Regions from separate parts of the Homo sapiens genome. Here regions 1 and 2 are each linked to region 3. The links come from fine-mapping of genetic effects on gene expression. A gene starts in region 3. Each other region holds a variant in brackets. All regions are shown on one strand. Distances are from middle to middle. Region 1 overlaps FOXK1 (forkhead box K1). Region 2 overlaps FOXK1 (forkhead box K1). Region 3 holds the start of FOXK1 (forkhead box K1).

Region 1 (8,000 bases), 66 kb after region 3:
TGTGGGTGTGTGGTTTTGTGTGTGTGTGTGTGTTTCTGATTTATTTTTTTCTGCCCTGAAGTACTCCACCCAGAAAATGAATGAACTCTCTTTGAAATAAATTCTGCTATCTTTAGCAGAAGTTTGACCTTTTCTTTCCTTTTTGCAAAGAAGGATTTTTACAGGCCAGGCGCCCGGTGGCTCAGGCCTGTAATCCCAGCACTTTGGGAGGCTGAGGCAGGCGGATCACCTGAGGTCAGGAGTTCGAGACCAGCCTGGTCAACATTGTGAAACCCCATCTCTACTGAAAATACAAAAATGAGCCAGGTGTGTAATCCAAGCTACTTGGGAGGCTGAGGCAGGAGAATTGCTTGAACCTAGGAGGCAGAGGTTGCAGTGAACCAAGATTGCACCACTCCAGACTGGGCGGCAGAGCGAGACTCCATCTCAAAAAAAAAAGTGTTTTTAGGAAGGAATTAAAGTATTTAATGAAAGAATTCAAGTAGTTAATCATTTTCTAGGTTCCATCAGACAGACACCAGTCTAAAAAGTGTTCCTTAGAGGTAGAGTTTTAAGAAAACTGCTGAAATTCAGTGAAAGGACATTGCACAGAGTGACTGTTTTTGCTCATGAGGGCAAGACTTCAAGAGCTGTTTCTCTTAAGGCTCTTCCTGATTTCTCCAACGTGGAGATCAAAAATGAAAGTAACTCGTACAATTCGGCGAAGGTCAGCAGTATGTAAATATACAGTAAAAATGCAGCAACTGACTTCAAAATCTTTCCCTTTTAATCATGATTTTTAAACAGTTCTGTCTTATTGCTAGATAACATTCAGTCCTAACTTGGTTTATGTTGTTTTGTAAAGTTAGAGGTCTTTTGAGTTTGGAGGTTATTGGATCTACGTTAGAAATACTCTCCTTTTTCTGACAACTTTGGTAGCTTCCTGCAGGGTGATTCATCTCTTTCAAAGTTTCTGGTTGGCTGGGTGTGGTGACGCACTTTGGGAAGCTGAGGCAGGAGGATTGCTTGAGGCCAGGAGTTCCAGACAAGCCTGGGCAGCATAGTGAGACCCCCATCTCTAAAAAAAAAAATTTTTTTGCTAATTAGCCAGGTGCAGTGGCTCATGTCTTTAGACCCAGCTACTCGGGAGGCTGAGGCAGGAGGATCGCTTGAGCCCAGCAGTTGGAGGCTGTGGCGAGCTATGATGTCACCACTGCACTCCAACCTGGGCAACAGAGCAAGACCCTGTCTCAAAAAATTAATAATTAAAAAACACAAGTTTGTGGCTGCAGCCTTCCGTGTGTTTTCAGCAGGGCTGCAGGAGGATTGTGGTGCGAATGTGTGAATCACCCCTAGCGGGAATCCTGCCTGGCTGATCTGGGCTGGCTGTGCCAGCATTTGCAAATCCAGTGAGGGTCCCTCTTCCCTTGTCTGCCTGTCCCTGTCCCTGTAGGCCTTGCTGCCCCTCCCCACCCCACCACACCCTCTTATGTCTTTTCCCAGCTGAGAACTCTGGGGAAGTAACTATTGTTTCCTCCACATGGGAAGGTTGGGACTTTCTGTCTTCCTTTTATTTTTCCCTCCTGCCTAGATCCCTTCGAGGGGCAACTTTGGCGCTAAAGTGTTGGGAGTTCGGAATGAAGCTTGGTAGGGAAGTCCTTGTGTTTGTCCGAATCTGTTGAAAGGACATCCCCACGCCCGCGTTTCCTGTAATCTCGGAGGGTCCTAGCGCCCGACTTCTCAGGTCAGCCTCGGGTGACAAGCGGCTTGTGTGGAGTAGGCCTGTTGCATGGCTTCTGTGCGGGCATGTTACGCACGAGGACAGCCCTTTCCGGGTTCCATGAGCCTCAGGGGAAGCAGGAGGCGCCTGCAGACACGGAGCTGACCCCGGAACCTGCCTAGCTGCGGGGCCGCCTCTCCGCTCAAGCACCCACTCAGCTCTGTGAGGTCTATGCCTAACATGAGAGCAGCTCCTGTTGAAGCCACCATGCTGGTTATTCTCACCAGGGCAAAGTGCACTTCAGAAACAAGTTAATTTTATTTTCTAAATTATTATTTTTAATGCTGGTTCCAATTTGGGTTTGGGGGGTTGATTTTGTTTTTGTTTGTTTGTTTTTTGGGACAGGGTCTCACTCTATTGCCCAGGCTGGAGTGCAGTGGCACAGTCACAGCTCACTGCAACCTCAACCTCCCGGGCTCAAGCGATCCTCCCACTGCAGCCTCCTGAGTAGCTAGGACTACAGGCACCCACCACCACACACACCCAGCTCATTTTTTATTTTCGTTGAGATGGTGTCTTGCCCAGGCTGGTCCTGAACTCCTGGCCTCAAGCAGTCTTCCCACCTTGACCTCCCAAAGTGCCAAGATTACAAGCCTGGGCCTGTTTTTGTTGTGGTTGTTGTTGCCTTTGTTGTTTTTGTTTTGTTTTGAAGCAGGGTCTTGTTCTGACACCCAGGCCGGAGTGCAGTGGTCCGGTCACGGCTCGCTGCAGCCTCGACCTCCGGGACTCAAGCGATCCTCCCACCTCAGCCGTGACTACAGGAGCAATCCACTAGTTAATTTTTAAAAATAGCTTCCCAGCATTTTACAATGTCGGATTTATCTTAAAGGAACACATTCTTTAAGATCATTCTAAGAAATTCGCCTCTGAAAATTTTCTTTCCCTATTTGTTTATTTTTCCTTTTTCAGATTACGAAGAGACTATCTATCTATCTATATGCATCTTACAAAATGCAAACATTTCAGAAAGTGAAAATTCCCCCACACAACGCTCCCCAGAGCTGAGCCCTTCTCTCTCACTTCTGTGTCTCTGAGTCGTATTCGTACGTGACTGTCTCTTGGTTTTTCCGTTTTAGATATTACACATGAGGTTCCTATATGGAAATTAAGGATTTAGCTTCCCCCCTCCCCATCCCAGTAAAGTTACATCATCATGTCTGGTTTACCTTGCATGAGCGTTTTCTGTATTAGAACTGTGTAGTGATTGTAGCGCTTAGCCATTTCCTTCCTTGTACTTTTGGCTTATTTCCGCCACACTCCCCCCGCTCTTGGGGTTAATAATGGCCTCTTCTCCCTTTACTGTGAAGGCCTTCCTCTGGGGCCCCTCTGACCATGGGATCATCTTCTCCACCATCCTGGGAATCCCCT[C/T]AGGAGGTGGTGGTGGAGAGAGGGCTGTTTCCTGATTCCCACGTCTTCCTCTTTCCTGATTTGTTCCTTTGTTTTACCAGAGTCCATCCCCCAGTCGCTTCCTGGGAAAGGGCACAGGAGACAGACTTTTCATTTATTCACTGATTTAAGAGACAAGGTCTCACTTTGTTGCCCAGGCTGGTACTTCTGGGCTCAAGCGAGCCTCCTGCCTCAGCCTCCCGAGTAGTAGGGACTACAGGTGTGCACCACCATGCCCGGCTAATTTTTGTATTTTTTGTAGAGGTGGGGTCTCCCCATGTTGCCCAGGCTGGTCTTGAACTCCTGTGCTCAAGTTATCTGCCCACCTCAGCCTCCCAAAGCGCTGGGATTACAGGTGTGAGCCACCTCGCCTGGACCCCCAGGTTCCTGTCCACGCTTCTGGGACTGGCTGTGCCTGGCGGGCCTCTGAGCTGAGTCTCTCATGCCTCTCCTTTCCTTTCTCTCTCTACTTTCTGAGGGATTTTCTCCAGTCTCTCCTTCCACCCTTTCTTGGATTTGTATTTCTCTTCTTTTGAATTCTTATTTTTTAATTTGAAGAGCGTGTTCTTGCTCTGCAGGTGTGCTTTGCATGCTGTTCTTACTGTCCTACAGAGACGGCATCGTTACCTCCCTAGGGACGGGAACCATGTTTCATCTCCTCCCAAGCTCCCGTAGGCTTCCCTGGGTCCCTCTTCTCTTCTGTTTTGCACCATGTTCCACCTGGTAGAAGCTTCCTCAAACCACAGATGTGCCTTGGCCGGCTGTTGTGTTTAACAGTGAGGTCCTAAAAACCCTCTTAGAGCGGCTGGTATTGGAGCAGGGGCTGGGGCAGGGACCCCAAGCGTCCTCCTCTGCAGGGAGGTTCCCCCAGGAGGCTTCAGGTGCCGCCTTGGGACGCAAAGGTCATCGCAGACCCCCGCAGCCTTCTCGCCCCTCCACTGCCCACAAGGCTCCGTCGCAGCTCCTTCCTCCAGCCCCTCCAGGCGGGTCCCTCTGTGTCTCTAGGGCTTCAGGAGGGATCAGGTCCCTTCTGACAGAGCACTGTCCTCCCTGGGCCTGCCGGAAGCGATAACTGTCCCGACCCTAGGCCTCTCAGGGTGGCCTTCTCAGCCTCAGAGCAGAGCCAAGGGCATTGAGGGTGGACTGGAAGGACCGCAGCCCTGTGCCCTGGGGAAGGCTTGTCTTAGGCTCTGGGGACGGAGCCCAGCTGGCGGCTCCAGAGGTGGCTTTAGGTCTGTTGTTGGATTTGCCTTTCTCAGCGTGACTTCTCATCATAACGTGACCCAGCGACCTGTGTGTCCCACAGCCCGTCCGTCCCTCTGCAGTCTCCCTGCACTGGCATGTCCTGGGTGGTCCCAGTGGCACCTTCTAGGCCCGGCCCCTGGATGCGGTGGAGGCTGCCCGGGGTGGGTCAGCATGGGGTTGTCCCTGTGAGCACAGCTCCGGGAGACCCGTACTCAGAATCCTCCAGCTCTCTCGCCTGAGGCGGAAATGTGACTTGGGAATTGTCCTCCATATAAAGGAAGCAAAATCAGGGCCTAGGGGTGAGCTGCTTACTGTGCTTCTTCCCTCTCTCAGCCTCCAATCGGGGGGCACAGGCGTTTGATTCCCGCGACGTCTGTGGGCTGTCACTGTCCAGCCTCTGCGTCCCACACCTGGGCAGCTAGGGACTGGGGGGGGCCTGACCGAGGCCTGGGGTACTTACCCCAGAAGGAGTGATTCCCTGTTTCCTGGAATTGAGCTGGTGGTCCCTGTCAGGGAGCAGTGGGGTCCCCTCAGCTTCCTGCTCTTTCTCATTCCCGCAGGAGGAAATGTGTGCACGTGTATGCCGTCGTTTTCAGCACTTTTTTTTTTTTTTTGAGACAGAATCTCGCTCTGTCGCCCAGGCTGGAGTGCAGTGGCACGATCTCTGCTCACTGCAAGCTCCGCCTCCCAGGTTCACGCCATTCTCCTGCCTCAGCCTCCCAAGTAGCTGGGACTACAAGTGCCCGCCACCACACCCAGCTAATTTTGTTTTCTGTATTTTTTAGTAGAGACAGGATTTCACCGTGTTAGCCAGGATGGTCTCGATCTCCTAACCTCGTCATCCACCCGCCTCGGTCTCCCATCTTTTTTTTTTTGAGACAGAGTTTCACTCTTGTTGTCCAGGCTGGAGTACAATGGCATAATCTCGGCTCACTGCAACCTCTGCCTCCCGGGTTCAAGCAATTCTCCTTCCTCAGCCTCCCGAGTAGCTGGGATTACAGGCATGCACCACCACGTCTGGCTGATTTTGCATTTTCAGTAGAGACGGGATTTCTCTAAATCGGGCAGGCTGGTCTCGAACTCCTGACCTTAGGTGATCTGCCCACCTCGGCCCCCTCAAAGTGCTGGGATTACAGGCGTGAGCCACCGTGCCTGGCCTTCAGCACTTTTTTTTTTTTTTTTTTTTGAGATGGAGTCTTGCTCTGTCGCCCAGGCTGGAGTGCAGTGGCGCAATCTCGACTCACTGCAAACTCCACCTCCCAGGTTCATGCCATTCTCCTGCCTCAGCCTCCAGAGTAGCTGGTACTACAGGCACCTGCCACCATGCCCGGCTAATTTTTTGTATTTTTTTTTTAGTAGAGACGGGGTTTCACTGTGTTAGCCAGGATGGTCTCGCTCTCCTGACCTCATGATCCACCCTCCTCGGGTAATCCCAAAAGCATTGGGATTACCAATCCCAAAGCACTGGGATTACAAGCGTGAGCCACCGTGCCCGGCCCAGCATTTTCTTTAGATTGCTAAGGGAATGTTTCCGTGGACTCCCAGCATCAGACATGGGATGTCTTGATTAGTTTTCCGGATGGCTCCAAGGCCTCTGGCTTTGGAGCTGGGTGTCCCATCCCACCCTGGCTGGGCGCCCTCAGACCTGTCTTCCCCCAGGGCACTTTACAGCTCTTAGCGGCTGTGAGGCTCGAGCAGCCTCTGCTTCCCGCCTCCGTCAGCTGCAGGCCTGGTATCGGGGGCCTTGGTATCAGGAGCCTGGTACCAGGCACAGCCCCGTGGCCGAGGCCCGCCTGCGGAGGACAGTTGAATGGGGCTTATTGAGAGACGGGCTGCTCCGAGGGCTGGAGGAGCCATGTGAACAAACACATGTGGTCCCTCAGCCCAGGTGGCTGGAAAACCTCAGAAGCTGCGCTGTCGTACCTGTCCCGGCTGGAGTGACACCAGGATCCGGCAGCCCAGGCCAGGTCCAGTGCTGGGGAAAGTGGCGGAGAAACCACCCTACTCTCTCGCCTGTGGGAGCCAGGCTTCGCCAACCTTTCTTATTTCCACTTGAAATCATTCTCTGGGGAATGACAACTTTTCCTGTGGGTTTTACTCCATGAGGTTTTTTGTTTGTTTTTTGAGATAAGGTCTCACTCTGTTGCCCAGGCTAGAGTGCAGTGGTGTGATCATAGCTCACTGCAGCCTCGACCTCCCAGGCTCAAGCCATCTTCCTGCCTCAGCCTCCTGAACAGCTGGAACTGCAGGTGTGCATTACCACGCCCAGCTAATTTTTAAAATGTTAAAACTTTGTTTATTTATGTATTTATTTATTTATTTTTAGAGACAGGGTCTTGCTCCGCCAGAGTGCAGTGGCACAATTATAGCTCACTGTAGCCTCAAACTCCTAGGCTCAAGCAGTCCTCCTGCCTCAGCCTCCTGAGTAGCTGAGACTACAGGTGCACACCACCACACCTGTCTAATGTTAATATTTTTGTAGAGATGGGGGTGTCACTATGTTGCCCAGGCTAGTTTCGACCATGTGGGCTCAAGCGATCCTCCTGCCTGGGCCTCCCAAATTGCTGGGCTTACAGGCATGAGCCACCGCACCCGGCAGACATGAATTTTCTATGATCTTCTGCAAAATAACTGCTGGGAACAGGAGCAGGTCCCTGCCACACGTGCTGGGCCATCACTGTTTGTTGTGGAGTGCTGGGGGGTGCCCCTCATTGGTCCTCAGGAAGGATCCAGGAGCCCGCCTGCCACCTCATGGGCCTCGGATGAGATTTTCCGAGCTGAGTGGCCATTCCCCAGCCTGTGGCCGGAGATCAGAGTGTATGTGAGTGACACCTCGGCTCAGTGGTCCCCAGCAAGGACTGACATTTCAGTTCTTCCTGCTGAGTCCAAGGGGGACGTCCAGTGGCTTTGGGTCTGGGACCGGGTGCACAGGCGTGTGCTGGCCCCATTGTCTGCAGCCCCTCCGGCCATGAGGCCATCCTGCCTCAGCAGGGAGGTGTTTGGTTCCCAGAGGCCTTTGACAAAGCCGATTTTGGGGGCTGTGTGCTGTTACCAGTCAAAACCTTTCTCTCCCCTTCTCATCTTACTTGTAAACTTGGGTTTTGTATTTTGGATTCAGAACTAAATTCAGAAAAGGTTTCCTTTTGACTGTTTCCTACCTCGATCGAGCCATTTGTGGGTGTTCATTTAAGTTTCGACACGTGTGGAACTTACCTATCTCTGCCATATTTGGGGAGTCCGTTGTAAGAGAGAATGGGAATTCCAGATCAGAGTCCTTAACGTTCCATGTGGGTGACACTGAGTCCTTCCTGAAAATGCCCCAGACCTGAACTGATCATTAATGTCAGCTGTCAGGTTTTTCTCAGCCACAGGATTTTTTTCATTCATTCCTCTGCTCCATCCAAAAAATGTTTCTTGAGCCCCGCCTGCACCCAAGGGGGCTCCTACTTAACCTAAGTTTTGGAGATCTAGGAGTCTTGTGCCTGGACAGTTAGGGAAGGATGTTCCTGGCAGAGGAAAGGGCAGCAAGGCGGGAGGAGGAGAATGGACCTTCTGGATGGTTCTGGATGGTTCTGGGTGGTTCTGGATGGTTCTGGGTGGCCTGCAGGGC
Region 2 (8,236 bases), 78 kb after region 3:
CTGAGCGCCCGTCCTCCAGCTGTTAGGAAAGCTGAGCTGCCCTGGAGTTTAGAGATACGTGGCGCAGTCAGCCCTCCGGATCTGTGGGCTCAGGCTCAGTGTACGGGCATGCAACTGATCACAGGTCAAAAATATTCCAAAAAAAAGAAGGCCGGCGCGGTGGCTCACGCCTGTAATCCCAGCACTCTGGGAGGCCGAGGCAAGTGGATCACCTGAGGTCAGGGGTTTGAGACCAGCCTAGCCAACATGGTGAAACCCCTGCCTCTACTAAAAAAATTCAAAATTAGTCGGGCATGGTGGCAGGTGCCTGTAATTCCAGCTACTGGGGAGGCTGAGGTAGGAGAATCGCTTGAATCTCGGAGGCAGAAGTTGCAGTGAGCCGAGATTGTATGTACCACTGCACTGCAGCCTGGGCGACAAGAGCAAAACTCCGTCTCAAAAAAAAAAAAAAAAAAAAAAAAAAAAAAGTAATACAAATGAAACAATACACACTACAACAGCTGTTTACATAGCAGGTACATTTGTTAGGGATTATAAGTAACCTGGCGATGATTTAAAGCTTACAGGAGGATGTGCACAGGTTGTATGCAAATGCGACACCATTTCTATGAGGAACTTGGGTAAGCATCTGCAGATTTGGTACCCACAACCCCCGCCCCTCAAGTACCGAGGGGTGACTGCTGGTTTCGGCACTTAAAGACTGCACCATTTTCTGTTTTTGTTTTGAGAGAATATCTCAGGACCAAGAACTCCTAAAATAGTAAGGTTACTAAGTAAGCCACTGACTGTTGTATTAAAAATAAGATTTTAGTTCTTAGAAGTGGAAATGTGTGTAGCAATAGGAACGGTTCCTAAGGCCAAGAATAAATGGATTGCGGTTGTGGGTCTTTTGGTAGCACTAAGCTTTCTGTTGCAGTGTGTGAGAGGACCCGGGGAGAGCCCAATCTTCGAAGGGACAGATGAGGGGTATGACCTGGGGAGCCCACAACCGCCTTTGCTTTTCGCAGATGCTGGGAACGCAGCTCTGCTGCCGGCGGGGTGGACAGACCCTCCCCCAGCCATTGCTGCCCACCTGCTGCGTCAGGGCCTCCCCTGCCCAGCTCAGTCTTGGCCAAGCCCAGTCTGGAGGAGCATGCACCGCCTGTGAGCGGTCTGGGCAGCGCTTCCCAGGTTGCCCATCAGATGAGCCCGTCCCAGGTGTCGAGGAGGAGATCTCCTGAGCGGCAGTCTCGGAAATCCTTCCCCGTGGAAGGACACGTTAACCTCTCGTGCTTCCCATTTCAAAATTCTGTTTCCAACACGATTTGATGAAAGATTGAAATATCTGAAAATTCATTTCGAGCACAGGGTCTGGCATTGTGATTCTCAGGTGAACTGGGCGTATGGTTGAGGTAGGACTTCAAAAAAGTGTTCGAACGTCATTTGCAGCATTTAAACTGAGCTCCAAATGACGTTCAAACACCCCTCTCGGGTAGAGTTTTCATGGTGGAACGGTTGCGCCCACCAAACAGAAGCTTATGTTTTTGGCACAGAAGGCCTGGGCCATTTTCATGGACACCTGGCTGGACCTCGGTGGAAGTGAACTCCGTAGGTTGTTGCGTTCACTGCAGCACCTCACATGATACCGTCCCCTCTCATGGAACGGAGCCTCCCCCATGCAGCCCCCACTCAAATGGAGTTTTAAAGGCTGGGTTCAGGTTACGGGGGCGTTTCTCACCGTCTGAATGCGGAGGACAGAGACGAGCTCCAGGGAGCGTGGGCGGGTGACGGCGCTGAGATGCGTGATGTCTCGGAAACGTCCTCGCATCCCTCAGCGCGGGCGCTGACTGCCGCGGCCCTTGCCTGTCTTCCAGGAGCGCTCCAGCTTCGCCCACACACCCCGGGCTGATGTCCCCTCGCTCCGGCGGCCTGCAGACCCCAGAGTGCCTGTCTCGGGAGGGCTCCCCCATTCCACACGACCCTGAGTTTGGGTCCAAGTTAGCTTCTGTCCCAGAGTACCGGTATTCCCAAAGCGCACCCGGTAAGGAGCGGGCGGCCCTCTTGCGGGGCGGGGCGGGGCGGGACTCGTGGGGGTGCGGGAGGGGTCACCGTCCGCTCTCCGCCCTCCGTGCAGGCTCCCCCGTCAGCGCCCAGCCAGTGATCATGGCCGTGCCTCCCCGACCGTCCAGCCTCGTGGCCAAGCCCGTGGCCTACATGCCCGCCTCCATCGTAACCTCACAGCAGCCCGCGGGCCACGCCATCCACGTCGTGCAGCAGGCCCCCACCGTCACCATGGTCAGGGTGGTCACCACATCTGCCAACTCGGCCAACGGATACATCCTCACCAGCCAGGGCGCGGCGGGGGGCTCCCATGATGCGGCGGGCGCAGCCGTGCTGGACCTGGGCAGCGAGGCCAGAGGTAATGCAGCCGCGGCTGGCAGCCTTCGCAGGACCCTTTGTGGTGGTCCCGGCCGGCAAGTCCCCAAGGCAGCGCCATTGGCCTGGGCCTGGGGCTTGAGGAGGATGATTCTCTGCTTCTGCCTCTCGCTGCCTTGTCCCTTTAAATCAGCATGAGCTGGGCAGGTGGCTCATGCTTATAATCCCAGTGCTTTGGGAGGCCAAAGCGGGTGGATTACTTGAGGTCCGGAGTTCGAGGTCAGCCTGGCCAACATACTGAAACCCCGTCTCTACTGAAAATACAAAAATTAGCCAGGCATGATGATGCGCTCCTGTAGTCCCAGCTACTCAGGAGGCTGAGGGAGGAGAATCGCTTGAAGCCTGGAGGCAGAGGTTGCAGTGAGCTAGACTGCGCCACTGCACTCCAGCCTGGGCGACAGAGCAAAACCCTGTCTCAAAAAAAAAAAAACCCATGAATCTCCGCAGATGTGTCCTTCCTTGTTGAACAGGGCCCTCGGATGCACATAGCTGTGTCCTTGCCCTAAGGTAACGTTAAATTGAGTTGTGTTGCGGCCTTGCATGCATTTGGAATTTAGTGTTTTCTGCAGGAGAAAGAATGAGCCTGGGAAGACTGTTCTTTTCGACTCCCTCGTAAGTTAAAGACTTTAGAAGTCATTTAGGGAAAAAGTAGTTCTGAATTGCTAAAAGAAATCCGATCCCAGGGCTTGACGGGGTAGACACTGAAC[A/G]TGCAGCTGACCCCAGAAGCTCCTCTCCGGAACGCCTGCAGTTAGGCAGCGCCCTCCTAGGCCACTCTCCACCCTGGACTTCCTCTCCGCGGTGGTGTTTGTTTCAATGCTGCCGTAATGAAACTGCAGTTTGGTGAGGGAAGGCCAAGTTACAGCTGTAATCAGGATCATTTCATTCCAAGTAATACGTTTTCTTTCTCAGACTAAATTTGGGTTGGTTAAAGCTAAGGTATTTAAAATACTGTTCTAGGCCGGGCGCGGTGGCTCACGCCTGTAATCCCAGCACTTTGGGAGGCTGAGGCAGGCAGATCACTTGAGGTCAGAAGTTCAAGACCAGCCTGGCCAACATGGTGAAACCCCATCTCTACTGAAAATACAAAAATTAGCCGGGTGTGGTGGCAGGCGCCTGTAGTCCCAGCTACTCAGGAGGCTGAGGCAGGAGAATCGCTTGAACCCGGGAGGCGGAGGTTGCAGTGAGCCGAGATGGCACCCCTGCACTCCAGCCTGGGCGACAGAGCAACAAAATTCTGTCTCAAAAAATAAATAAGTAAGTAAAATATTGTTCTAAAACCCTAGTAATTTTCTTCCCAAACCTATTTCACCCATGGGATTTTCCTCTAGCAAACCTATTTTTTCCCAGTGCCGACCTCACTTTCCCCACTTGTCCGACCTGCTGCCCAGGCGTCGAGGAAATCGATTGTCTCGTTGGCCGAGTGTGGTGCTGACTTGGTTCCTGTCCCGCAGGCCTGGAGGAGAAACCCACCATTGCGTTTGCCACAATCCCCGCGGCTGGTGGAGTCATCCAGACGGTGGCCAGCCAGATGGCCCCCGGGGTCCCCGGACACACGGTCACCATCCTGCAGCCCGCCACACCCGTGACCCTCGGGCAGCACCACCTTCCAGTCCGGGCCGTGACCCAGAACGGAAAGCATGCGGTTCCCACGAACAGTTTAGCCGGCAACGCTTACGGTGAGGCCCTGGCCCTGTTCTCCATGCCACATCCCAAGCTCTGTGGCTCCCAGTAGTCAGTGCGGCATGAGAATGTTCTCCCAGTATCTCCCGATCCTCCACTCAGTTCAATTTATTGAGCACCTGCTATACTCCAGGCACTGGGGTAATGCAAAGAAAAAGAGGGTGGAAGGGGCCACCTATCATCCCAGCACCTTGGGAGGCCAAGGCAGGCAGATCGCTTGAGCTCAGGAGTTCGAGACCAGCCCGGGCAACATAGCAAGACCCCATCTCTACATAAGATTCAAAAACTTAGCCAGGTGTGGTGTTGCACGCTCATGGTCCCAGCTGCTTGGGAGAGTGAGGCTGTAGTCAGCTGTGATTGCTCCGCTACCTGCCAGCCTGGGTGACTGAGCGAGACCCTGTCCCTTTAAAAAAAAAGTGGGGGGAAAGAAAACAGGGTGGAAGGAAAACCCAGATCTGCCCACTCTCTGGAGCTCACACTCCATGGGGTGAGGCAAGAGGTCAAAGGAAGGAGGAGAGTTGGGGTGCTGGGGTGCAAGGGTGCTGGGCGGGGGTGCAGGGTACCAGGGCACCGGGCGCATTGTCAGTGGGGTGGCTCAGGGCAGTGCATCTGTGTAAAGGAGTGAGGCAAGCCGTCGATGTCCAGCAGGATCTAGACAGCAATGAGAGGGGCCTCCACCCAACAGGCTGGAGCCAGCAGAGACAGGGCAGATGAGGTGGGGAGGGGACGGCAGGGCCCGCAGGGAGCAGAGCAAGGGTAGCCGTCCTGCCTGGCAGGGGTGCACTGACCTCCGGTTCCGGCTTGGTGGCTTAGCCCCTGTATAGGGGACTTGAAAAAAGCAGCTGGGTCCTAACCAGACCCCAGAGTAACCCTCTTCTTCCTCCACTCCAGCCCTCACCAGCCCTTTGCAGCTCCTTGCGACCCAAGCGAGTTCATCCGCGCCGGTGGTGGTCACCCGGGTGTGCGAGGTGGGGCCCAAGGAGCCAGCAGCAGCCGTCGCGGCCACGGCCACCACCACCCCAGCCACTGCCACCACCGCCTCTGCCTCCGCCTCTTCCACTGGAGAGCCCGAGGTCAAAAGGTCCCGGGTGGAGGAGCCCAGTGGTGCTGTAACCACACCGGCTGGAGTGATCGCAGCTGCCGGCCCCCAGGGGCCAGGCACCGGGGAGTGAGGTCACCTGCAACGCGGGGGAGTGGGACTCACCCAGCGGCGACCCCGAAGCTGGACCCGGCAGCTCAGGCGGCCGCACCCACAGACGGAGGAGAACAGCCCGCGGCGGCCTGTGGGCATCGGCGGCACCTGGACACACCCAGCCCTTTCCATTTGATCGCCTGCCTTCCCGTGGTTTAAGACAAAAACACATAAACAAGTTCAGACAACTGATTGTATGATTCTGGGAATTCTTTGCTTTCCTTTCCTTCTCCCTCGGCACCACCTCCTCTCCCCAGGCCTCCCTGTCGGGCATGGGGAGGAGGTTGGAGCTCAGCATCTTGAGGAATGTGTCAAGACAGCCCCTCCGCTCCGCGCTGCACGGCCAGCCGCCTTTGTCCGGGAGGACAGACAGAAACGCAGCAAGGCACACACCAAGGCTGCCGGGGAGGCCCGGGCACCGGACAGATGCCTGTTGGGAAGCCAGGAGCTGCCGAGCCACGGACCACCTAACAGCCTCTCCGCCCGGAACGTGACATAGAGAGTGTTGGCATTAACTCGGGGGGTGTCCGATTTCACTTCAGACCCCAAGTTTTTCTTTGTTTGTTTAAACATGGAATTCAGACTTCATTGTACACCTGAGACAGACACAAAAGGGATCATGTATTTTTGAGGATTTTACCTGTTGACGTCTGATGACCGGCCGTAGGTCCAGGGTTCCCGCTGGGTTTAATCCCCTCGAAGAGTAAACCTGCCGCTCTGTCTGATAACTTCAAGTAAGAGCAGCGGCTTCCTGGGTTGGCGTTCGCGGTGGAAGGTTCCTAGGATGAAAGGTGAGCCTGGATCCGCCGGCCGCAGACATCGCGCTGCTGGGGACGATTGGGGCCGCTGCTCTGCAGACCAGACCTTCCCGAATTATCCGTGGCTCCGATGTCCCGGTGCTGACGGCCACATGGGGACCTAACAGTGCCAAACGCCATCTGCTCCAGCTGCTTTTTCACCCAGTTGCAGAGTCCTCACCACTCCCACATTGATCTGCTGTTTTCAATTGGAACCATTTCTCCTGCCTGAAACTCCAGGGCCCCTCCCTGGGCTGTCCGTGAGCAGGAGACCCCACCCCAGCAGCAGTGGTGAGCAGGCCTGTGCCTCCACGCCCAGCCCCCGCCAACGCGACTGGTTTTGTTTGCCACACGGTGAGAACCGGAGGACGGGATGCTCCAGCCAGTTGGGTGGTTCTGGGGTCCCTGAGGAAGCCCCCTCCTGCACTTCCATTAAGACAGCCAGTGGTTCCTGGATCTTTGTCACCAAGCAGCGTTGAGCCAGAGCTGTCTAATGCTGAGCCCAGCTCAGGAAGGAGAGAGGAGTCCTTCAGTGTGTCTTGGAGATGCGAAGTGCGTCCTCGTAAAGGTCAGCTGTCAGTTTTGCTGGCCGCTCCGGCGCTGGCTCTCCTGTCCGGGACCACAACGAGAAACAGCGACAGATTCGACGCAGAGCTCCGGAAGTGCCTGAGGAGCAGTGGTTCTTGGAAATCGCCCGTCCTCCGCATCACAGCCTCTCACCAGCAAAGCAGCCTCTGCCCAGGCCCTGGCGGGAGAGCTGCAGAGGGACCCAGGTGCCTGGAGGGCATTTGAGGGAGGTGGCTGGACAGGTGTCTCCCTGAAGAAGAAGGGAGAACACTTTTCAAAGTGATTCCGAGGCAGTGCGGGAGGACACACGTGCTGTGCAGTGGAGTGGGGTCGCCCGTGGCCCCCATCAGAGTCCCCGTCCCCCAGGACAAGTGCAGAACCTCTGTGGGCCCCCTCCTTCCACCTAGATAGAGAAAACCCCTTGTTCGGTTTCCTTCCCGTGTCCCGTTGTTTTTCTAAGCCCCCCGAATTGAGTCGTTTCTATGGCACTAACCTTTCCATGGGAAATAAGCTCTTTGTGGAAGTCCGTACCTGTTGCCCTGGGTGAGGTTTCAGAGAAACGGGGGCAGGATGAACACAGCCGGCTGTCCTGGGTGCAGTTACGTCCGTGGAGGGTGAGAGATTGCGCCCCGTTCCACACTTGTGTCGCCTGCTGTTGTCTGTGGGCCTTTTCTTTCCGTGGTGCCTGGTGTGTGCGTGCATGGCGTGAGAGAACGGGGGGTGGGGGTTGGAGGTGGCTCCCCGACACCGGTGCCTGTGTGGCCTGAGCCGGCGCCCTCCCGGGAGCGCCCGTCACGGGGGGCCTCTGTGATTACCTGCTGCTGCTCTCTCCCGCGTGGTGACTATATGTCCTCAGGGCTGCCTGTGGCCACCCTGATGGGAGACCTCTGTTTGCTTCTGGGCCACTGCAGGTTGGCCTCCTCAATACAAGCTGATGTCTGCAGGGAGCGCCGCGTGCTGGGATTGCACCACGTGTTGGTCACAAATCGAGGTCGCCTTTTGGCCTGGTCTGCTCAGGCTGGCCCTGACCCACGTGGTTTCCTGGCTTCTGAGACGCAGCGCATTCTTCCTGTTAGCGGTAGCGTTCTCTGATTTCACTGCTTCATTGCCAAGGGCGTGGAAAGGGGGTGGTGGATGGAGCCGGGAGGTGGCGAGCACAGGACCCCGGGGCTGCATTCTGCCGTGTGGGGTTCTGCACTGTCTAGCTTCTGCGGGGACTGCAAAGAGGGATGAAGGGACGTGGTCCTAGGGGTCGGCTCAGACTCGGAGCAGGGCAGGGAGAGGAGGGCAAGGAGAGGAGGCCTGGGTCCTGGATCCACTGCTCTGGGCTCATAACCATGAGATTTTGAAAGAGTTTTTGGTCATCTGAGCAGGTACCATGCCTGGCTCATGCCGGAACTTGTCTTGGAACCGGTAGCCAGAGGCCCAGGAAGGGACAGGGCCCAAAAGGGTTGCATGTCCCGGCCACAAAGCCCTCCCTGTGTGCCCTGAGCCAGCCCAGCAAGCGCCTCCCAGCCAGGCGCTTTCGCAGAAGCAAGAGCACAGGCCAGGGGGACCGGGAGAGCCTCAGCCCCCAGCCTGGGCG
Region 3 (8,213 bases):
AGTTCCCTGGCAGGGGCACTACCCTCACAGTCTCACACCACTTCCCTAATCAGGCATCCCTTAGACCTCAAGGAGGAGCCCCCTGACTCTGTTTACCATCCCCCCCACCTCAATCAAGCAGGTACTCAAGTTACTGCTCCTGCTAAAAATGCGTTCCTTGGCCGGTCACGGTGGCTGACGCCTGTAACCCCAGCACTTTGGGAGTCCGAGGCAGGTGGATCATGAGGTCAAGAGATCGAGACAACCCTGGCCAACCTGGTGAAACCCCATCTCTACTAAAAATACAAAAATTACCTGGGCATGGTGGCACACACCTGTAGTACCAGTTACTTGGGAGGCTGAGGCAGGAGGATTGCTTGAACCCTGGAGGCAGAGGTTGCAGTGAGCCGAGATCGCACCACTGCACTCTAGCTTGGCAACAGAGCGAGACTCTGTCTCAAAAAAAAAAAAAAAAAAAAAAAAAAAAAGCTTTCCTTGCCTCCCAAACACTTATCTCTGCATGCACATATTCAAGGCTGAGAGATGAGATTAATACCTATTTCAGCCCCAGACTGGAGCGTGGGTGTGCAGGTCAGGGAAGCTCCTGCCTTAGACAGGCCCAGTCTCTCGTTTACACTTGCACGTCACCATGCACCAGTCCCTCACCGGATGTATCACAGCTGTGACTTGATTTTACTTTTTCTAGGATGTGTCTTTGATTTATGTCTGCATCTCCCCCTCAACTATAAGCTCCACCAGGGAGGGAACTGTGTCTCCTTTCCCACCCTTAATAATTCGTAAATGAGGGAAATGTGGAAACTGCACCGCCTTTTTAGGGGAACCTGAACTGGCAATGGAGGACCAGGCTACTGAAGTCCGAAAGGGATCCCAATGATGCCCACGTTTGCCACTCCCTGTTTTCAGCTAAGATTTCTCTCTGGGGCATTCTCTCAGATCTGTCTTAGCTGGATCTAGCATATTGAATGAGTGAAGGGCTCCAGAAAGAAAGAGAGATAGGCTGGGCGTGGTGGCTCACGCCTGTAACCCAGCATTTGGGGAGGCTGAGGTGGCAGACTGCTTGAGCCCCAAAGTTGAACACCAACTTGGGCAATATAATGAGACCCTGTCTCTATAAAAAAATTGAAAAAGGCCAGGTGAGGCGGCTCCCGCCTGCAGCCCCAGCACTTTAGGAGGTCGAGGCAGGTGGATCACCTGAGGTCAGGAGTTTGAGACCAGCTTCACCAACATGGTTGAAACCCCGTCTCTACTAAAAATACAAAAATTAGCTGGGTGTGGTGGCAGATGCCTGTAATCCCAGCGACTTGGGAGGCTGAGGCAGGAGAATCGGTTGCAGTGAGCCGAGACTGCACCATTACACTCCAGCCTGGGTGACAGATTAAGACTCTGCCTTAAAAAAAAAAAAAATTAAAAATTAGTCGGGCATGGTGGCTCATAGTCCCAGCTACTTGGGAGGGTGAGGTGGGAAAATCACCTGAGCCCTGAAGGTTGAGGCTGCAGTGAGCTATGATTGTACCACTGCACTCCAGCCTGGGTGACAGAGTGAGACCCTGTCTCAAAAGAAAAAGACAAGAAAGAGAGAGAAGGAAGGAAGGGAGGGAGGGAGGGAAAGAAAGGAAGGAAGGAAGGAAGGAAGGAAGGAAGGAAGGAAGGAAGGAAGGAAGGAAGGCAGGCAGGCGGCCGGGCACGGTGGCTCCCGCCTGTAATCCCAGGACTTTGGGAGGCTGAGGCGGGCAGATCACCTGAGGTCGGGTTTTCAGGACTAGTCTGACCAACACGGAGAAACCCCATCTCTACTAAAAAAATACAAAATGAGCCGGGCCTGGTGGTACATGACTGTAATCCCAGCTACTTGGGAGGCTGAGGCAGGAGAATTGCTTGAATCCAGGGGGTGGAGGTTGCGTTGAGTCGAGATTGCGCCATTGCACTACAGCCTGGGCAACAAGAGCGAAACTCCGTCTCAAAAAAAAAAAAAAAGAAGGAAGGAAGGAAGGGAAGAAAGAAAGGAAGGAAGGAAGGAAAGGAGGAAGGAAGGAAGGAAGGAAAGGAAGGAAGGAAATGGAGGGAGGAAGGGAGGGAGGGAAGGAAGGAAAGGAAGGAAGGAAGGAAAGGAAAGGAAGGAAGGGAAGGAAAGGAAGGAAGGGAAGGGAAGGAAGGAGAGGAAGGGAAGGGAGGGAGGAAGGGAAGGAAGGAAGGAAAGAAGGGAGGGAGGGAAGGAAGGAAGGAAAGGAAGGAAGGAAAGGAAAGGAAGGAAGGAAAGGGAGGGAGGAAGGAAGAGAGGGAGGGAAGGAAGGAAGGAAAGGAAGGAAGGGAAGGGAAAGAAGGAGAGGAAGGGAAGGGAGGGAGGAAGGGAAGGAAGGAAGGAAGGAAAGAAGGGAGGGAAGGAAGGAATGAAGGGAAGGGAAGGAATGAAGGGAAGGAAGGGAAGGAAGGAAGGAAGGAAAGAAGGAAGGAAGGATGGATCAGGGATTCAGGGATGGATCTCAAGTGGTCTTCAGTTACAGTAGAGTATGATGACCTTTAATCTGAGGGCTTAAGAATGATCAGGCCTGGCACTGTGGCTCACACGGGTAATCCCAGTGCTTTGGGAGGTCGAGATAGATAGATCACTTGAGACCAGGAGTTTGAGACCAGCCTGGCCAACATAGCAAGACCCTGTCTCTATAAGAAGTAAAAAAATTAGCTGGGCGTGGTGGCACTTGTGAGGCAGAGGCAGGAGGGTGACTTGGGCACAGGAGGTGGAAGCTGCAGTGAGCTATGATTTTGCCACCGCACTGCAGCCTGGGCGACAGAGCGAGGTTAGAATATAAACATATGTATTGTATATAATACACATATATTTTATCTTCTGTCTATCTTACACTTTAGGGTTGGGGGCCTGGAGTGTCTGGGGCGGGGAGACTGCTGAGGTCATCCGTCCCTTTCTCCAATGACCCAGGCTCAAAACTTTGTGGCTGGGCATTTCAGGGGTCCCCTCTTCCCCCTGGATGGAGGAAAGGGCGCCCGCCGCCTGCAGCCCCGCGGGGAGGGGACGAGGTGCGCCGGGCCCAGCTCTCCCGGGGGCCCGCCGGCCCTCCCGGCACAGGCCTCGCCCCCAGCCCCGCGCTGGCGCGCGCCACGTGGGCTACGCTGGGCGGGACCGGCGGGCGGGCGAGGCGAGGCGCACGGTGGGCTGGGAGGCTCCGCTCCGCGCCGGCGCGATCTGGCCCGGGTTTCCGCGCCCGCCCAGCGCCCCGACCTCCCCGCCCCCCGCGCCGCCGCTGCAGCCGCCGCCGCCGGAGGCCGCTCGGAGCCGCGCGAACATGGCCGAAGTCGGCGAGGACAGCGGCGCCCGCGCCCTGCTCGCGCTGCGCTCGGCGCCCTGCAGCCCAGTGCTGTGCGCCGCAGCCGCCGCCGCCGCCTTCCCCGCGGCCGCACCCCCGCCGGCCCCCGCGCAGCCCCAGCCTCCGCCCGGGCCGCCGCCGCCGCCGCCACCGCCGCTGCCTCCGGGCGCGATCGCGGGCGCGGGCTCCTCCGGGGGCTCCTCCGGGGTATCCGGGGACTCCGCGGTCGCGGGCGCGGCGCCGGCCCTGGTGGCCGCGGCGGCCGCCTCGGTACGGCAGAGCCCGGGGCCGGCGCTGGCGCGGCTGGAGGGCCGCGAGTTCGAGTTCCTCATGCGCCAGCCCAGCGTCACCATCGGCCGCAACTCGTCGCAGGGCTCGGTGGACTTGAGCATGGGCCTGTCCAGCTTCATCTCGCGGCGCCACCTGCAGCTCAGCTTCCAGGAGCCGCACTTCTACCTGCGCTGCCTCGGCAAGAACGGCGTCTTCGTGGACGGGGCCTTCCAGAGACGCGGCGCGCCCGCCCTGCAGCTGCCCAAGCAGTGAGTGGCCCCGCGACCCCCGCCGCCCGCACCCGGGGCTCGCCCACGACCTCGATCTCTGAGGCCCGGGCCTGGGGATCCCCCTCCAGCTTCCTCGGCCTCGACCCCCACCCCCCGGCCCACCCCCGGTAACCCCCGACCGGCCTGGACTCCGGGGTCAACCCCGACCCCCGCCTCCTGGCTCCCTAGGATCACCCCGACCCCGATCCTGGAGGCTCCAGCCTGAGGATCTCCTCCACTTTCCCCGGTCTGGATACCCCGTCGCCCCCGACCCCCACCGGCCTGGACTCTGGGGTCAGCCCTGACCCACACCTTGCGGCTCCTGGGGTCACCCCTGACCTCATCTCCCACCGGCCTGGGCTCCTGGAGCCACCCATACCCCAAGCCCATCTGGCTGGGCCTCTTAGACCCCTGACCCAGATCCCTGCTGCTCCCCAGCTCCCATCGGCCTGGACTCCGGGGTCATTCTGAACTCCCACTGGCCTGGATCCCTGGGGTCATCTACGTCCCTACCCTGCCTAAACACGCAAGGTTAACCGCGACCCCCACTTCCTAGGCCCCCCCGGAGTCACCCCTGACCGCTAACCCCACAAGCCTGGGCTCGCAGGGCCACTCCCACCCCAGCTCCACCCAGCTGGGTTACTGAGGTCACCTTGACCCCAGTCCCTGCTGCCTGGGCCTGGGGATCACCCTCAACCCTTCCAGGTCACCCTGGACCCCCACCAGCTTGGACTCCAGGGTCACCCCAGCCTGACCTGGTTCTCAGGACCACCCCCGACCCCCACCAGCCAGGGCCTCAAGTCACCCCAGTGCCTGATGCCTGCCGTCCTGGACCCCAGTGGCTACCCCTGACCCTGTCTGGTCTGGACCCTTGGGCCACCCCCACCCCATCCAGTCTGGGTCCTGGGGGACCCCAACACACTCACCCAGGACAGTGGGAGGGTGTTGCTCCGGGAAGTGCGAGGTCCCTAGGAGTGTGGGCTGTGCTGAAGGAGCAGAGGCCTGGCGGGGAGGGGCGAGGACAGGAAGCCTGTGCCTCAGTTTACATCCCCAACTAGTGCTCCTTGGATGGAGTAGCGGGACCCCAAGATCAAATTAGATTCCCCCGGGCCCGAGGTCACCAGGGCAGAGAGACCCAGCTGGGCCTGGACGGCTGCCCAGGCCTGTCGGTGCCTTTGGTAGCATCCCGTGGTCACCTCCCGCCCATTCCGGTTCCCTCCTTTCCAGCTCCACTGCCCTCCGCACCCTCTGCTCTGCCCCGGACCTCAAGGTCTGTTGATCAGGAGAAAGCCTGTTTAATTACTCATTTCCTCTGGAGCCACTTTCTTTTTCTATTTAGTGATTGCCTCTAACTCATCACCAGTGTTTATATTTCTTCAATGTGGTTCTTGTTCAGGGTTGTCTGTCTAATTACTCCCTTTTATAAACGCCTTGCGTCTGGGGAATTTTTGCTGGGGTAATTCCCAGGGCCCAAAGTTTGTGTCTGTAAACTTCTCCCCTTTTTTAGTCTTGGCATGTTTGGTTACAGATATCGCATTGAATAATTTAAAATGCAACATCAACAATGACTCACTCCCCCTTGGGGCGTGAGAGGGGAAGTATACCTTTTTCTAACCGTGCTGAAAGGTGTGCATTTTGGTAAAATCAGAACTCAGGAGATAACAAATTTGTTCTTTGCCTCAGATATTAGTGTGTTCTCTCTCTTCCATAACCAATACACTCTCTCCGTTTGGGGCCATTAAATGCATTTCCTGGCCACTCTCCCCTCCAGTAAGAAAATGACAGGTAGGCTCCCCAGGCCCCCCTTAGAGGCCTGCTTTACAGACGCACCTTTATATAACTCAGGTTCACTAAGTACTTCCATTAAAGTCTTGTTTTCAGGTTTCCTGCCCCTGCCGTGGAAACAGGTGCACTCCTGAGTCAGGCCCAGCTTTAGTGAATCTTGAAGGAGGCTTTCACGGTATTTTTTTTTTGTAATTCAAGGGGAAAAAATTTCAACCTCAGATCGTCTACGAATAGGCCAGTAGCAAGCCTGTTATTTATGAAATGTTATCGGTGTATACAGTCCTTGCACATTTATGCTCCAGGGAGCTCGTGTTCTCGGTGGGTGCATTACCAGGCATTGTGGTGGGGCTGTCAGGCTACACAGATGCCCGCCCGCTGACTTGGTGCATTAGATGTGCGTGAAGTGCTTGGCCCACTGCGCCTGTCTGTTTTTATTTGACTTCACCTGCACATGTGAGCAATATCTATGTAGGCAGCAATGTAAAATTTACAAGAACAAAGCAAATGTGCAGAAGGAAAAACATTAAGTGGATGTCCATGTCCACCCTCCTAGAAAAGAGCTATTTGCTTTTTTTTTTTTTTTTTTTTCTGTCATGGAGTCTCGCTCTGTTGTCCAGACTGGAGTGCAGTGGCTCACTGCAAACTCTACCTCCCGGGTTCAAGAGATTCTCCTGCCTCAGCCTCCTGAGTGGCTGGGACTACAGGCGCACAACACCACGCCCAGCTAATTCTTTGTATTTTTAGTAGAGATGGGGTTTCACCGTGTTAGCCAAGATGGTCTCGATCTCCTGACCTCGTGATCTGCCTGCCTTAGCTTCCCAAAGTGCTGGGATTACAGGCATACAGGCGTGAGCCCCTGCGCCCGGCCTCACTTTTTTTTTTTTTTTTTTTAATTTTAGAAAACTTACACCTAAGTAGTCACATATGTAGAACAGGCTGTCATAAACTTTTTTGGTTAGGTAAAGATTCTTAAGCCTGGACTACATTTGGTTAGGTAAAGATTCTTAAGCCTGGACTACAGCCTCACGCCTGTAATCTCAGCACTTTGGGAGGCCAAGGCGGGTGGATCACTTGAGTTCAGGAGTTCAAGACCACCCTGGCCAATGTGGCAAAACCCTGTCTCTACTAAAAATACAAAAATTAGCTTGGCGTGGTGGATCACGCCTGTAGTCCCAGCTACTTGGGAGGCTGAGACAGAAGAATCGCTTGAACCCGGGAGGTGGAGGTTGCAGTGAGCTGAGATCACGCCACTGCACTCCAGCCTGGGCAACAGAGCAAGACTCCATCTCAATAAAAAACAAAATGAAAAAAAAAAAACCAAAAAACGATTCTTAAGCCTATTATGTTGAAAGTCATTAAGAAATTTTAAGGATTTCAGCGCAAGGAAGTTAGATGCGTAAGTTTTTGTCACCCTGAATGGGAAATTCATCACCGAATGTCAGGAATTACTGTGTCTGTTTTCTCTCCGGCTTTGGTACCTGGTATTGCCACTGCTACTGGAAATTGTGAATTTGTTTACTGTAAACTACAGATTCTCTTGCTGTGTTGGAATGTGATTGCCTTGGACGTGCTTGGATTTGGTGGGAGGTCTATGTTGTGTTGGTGCCCACACCATTTTCCAAAGCTGTGTTGTCCGGGGCCACCCTCTTCACCTTGGGACAGGTACATGCCACACACACTTCCAGTAGAGCTCCCACTCAGGAAGGATGCCAGAATTCAACCCCTATTTGTTACTGGAAGTACGTAATTCCAAATCTTCAATATTTTTAATTATTGGTGGGGGAAAAAAAAGACTTGTGACCCAGCTTAGAGCTGATCTTGCTCTACTGGGTGACACTACGCCTGGTGGGTAAGCATCTCGCCAGAGCTCCCAGGCACAGGGGGAGTGTGCGTGGGTTCTGATTCAGCTTTGCTTGGTGTTGACTTGGAGGAACTGCCCGGGTCTCCGTGATAGCGTTTCTTCTAGACCATAAGCTCCCTGTGGCTGGGGCCGAGAATTTATGATGTTTCACCAGAGACCTAGTGCAGGCACTGGCTCCTATTAGGTATGCAACAACTGGGTTCTGTTTGTTGAGTGAACAAATTAATGACCACATGAATTTGCAGCTTCTGTAGGAGAAAAACGGCGTCATCGATTTAGTCTGGTGTCCTAAAAGGACCATGAGCCTGTCATGGGGGGGAATTCAGACAGCCTTCTTCGGTTATGGGGAGGGGGGTGAGGTGTGTGTGTGCACATGTGTGTGTGTGCTGTCATTCTTGATGCCACTTAATTTTTTTTCTTTTCTTTTTTTTTTTTTGAGACAGAGTCTTGCTCTGTCACCGAGGCTGGAGTGCAGTGGCGCGAACTTGGCTCACCGCAAGCTCCGCCTCCCGGGTTCACACCATTCTCCTGCCTCAGCCTCCCGAGTACCTGGGACTATGGGCACCTGCCAGCATGCCCAGCTAATTTTTTGTATTTTTAGTAGAGACGGGGTTTCACCGTGTTAGCCAGGATGGTCTGGATCTCCTGACCTCATGATCCACCCTCCTCGGCCTTCCAAAGTGCTGGGATTACAGGCGTGAGCCACCA

Evidence for each region. PIP is the estimated chance that this variant, and not a neighbour inherited with it, causes the effect.
Region 1: its variant is fine-mapped to the expression of FOXK1 in pancreas (GTEx, PIP 0.93).
Region 2: its variant is fine-mapped to the expression of FOXK1 in testis (GTEx, PIP 0.90).

Annotation. Positions count from the first base shown.
Region 1 is chr7:4,745,457-4,753,456 of GRCh38, forward strand. All of the region lies in intron 2 of FOXK1 (forkhead box K1), which reads left to right. Among named protein-coding and RNA genes, the nearest start is that of AP5Z1, 26 kb to the right of the region's middle. RefSeq lists an enhancer at 4,388-4,887. The variant C/T (reference allele first, on the strand shown) is at 3,128.
Region 2 is chr7:4,757,198-4,765,433 of GRCh38, forward strand. FOXK1 (forkhead box K1) reads left to right here. Exons shown (of 9, transcript NM_001037165.2): 6 at 1,854-2,020; 7 at 2,114-2,398; 8 at 3,867-4,091; 9 at 4,987-8,236. The coding sequence ends at 5,267. Among named protein-coding and RNA genes, the nearest start is that of AP5Z1, 14 kb to the right of the region's middle. RefSeq lists an enhancer at 3,224-4,423. The variant A/G (reference allele first, on the strand shown) is at 3,123.
Region 3 is chr7:4,679,010-4,687,222 of GRCh38, forward strand. It overlaps FOXK1 (forkhead box K1), which reads left to right and starts at 3,286. Exons shown (of 9, transcript NM_001037165.2): 1 at 3,286-3,859. The coding sequence starts at 3,300. RefSeq lists enhancers at 2,287-2,787, 2,989-3,283, 4,143-4,670 and silencers at 2,997-3,366, 3,517-3,586.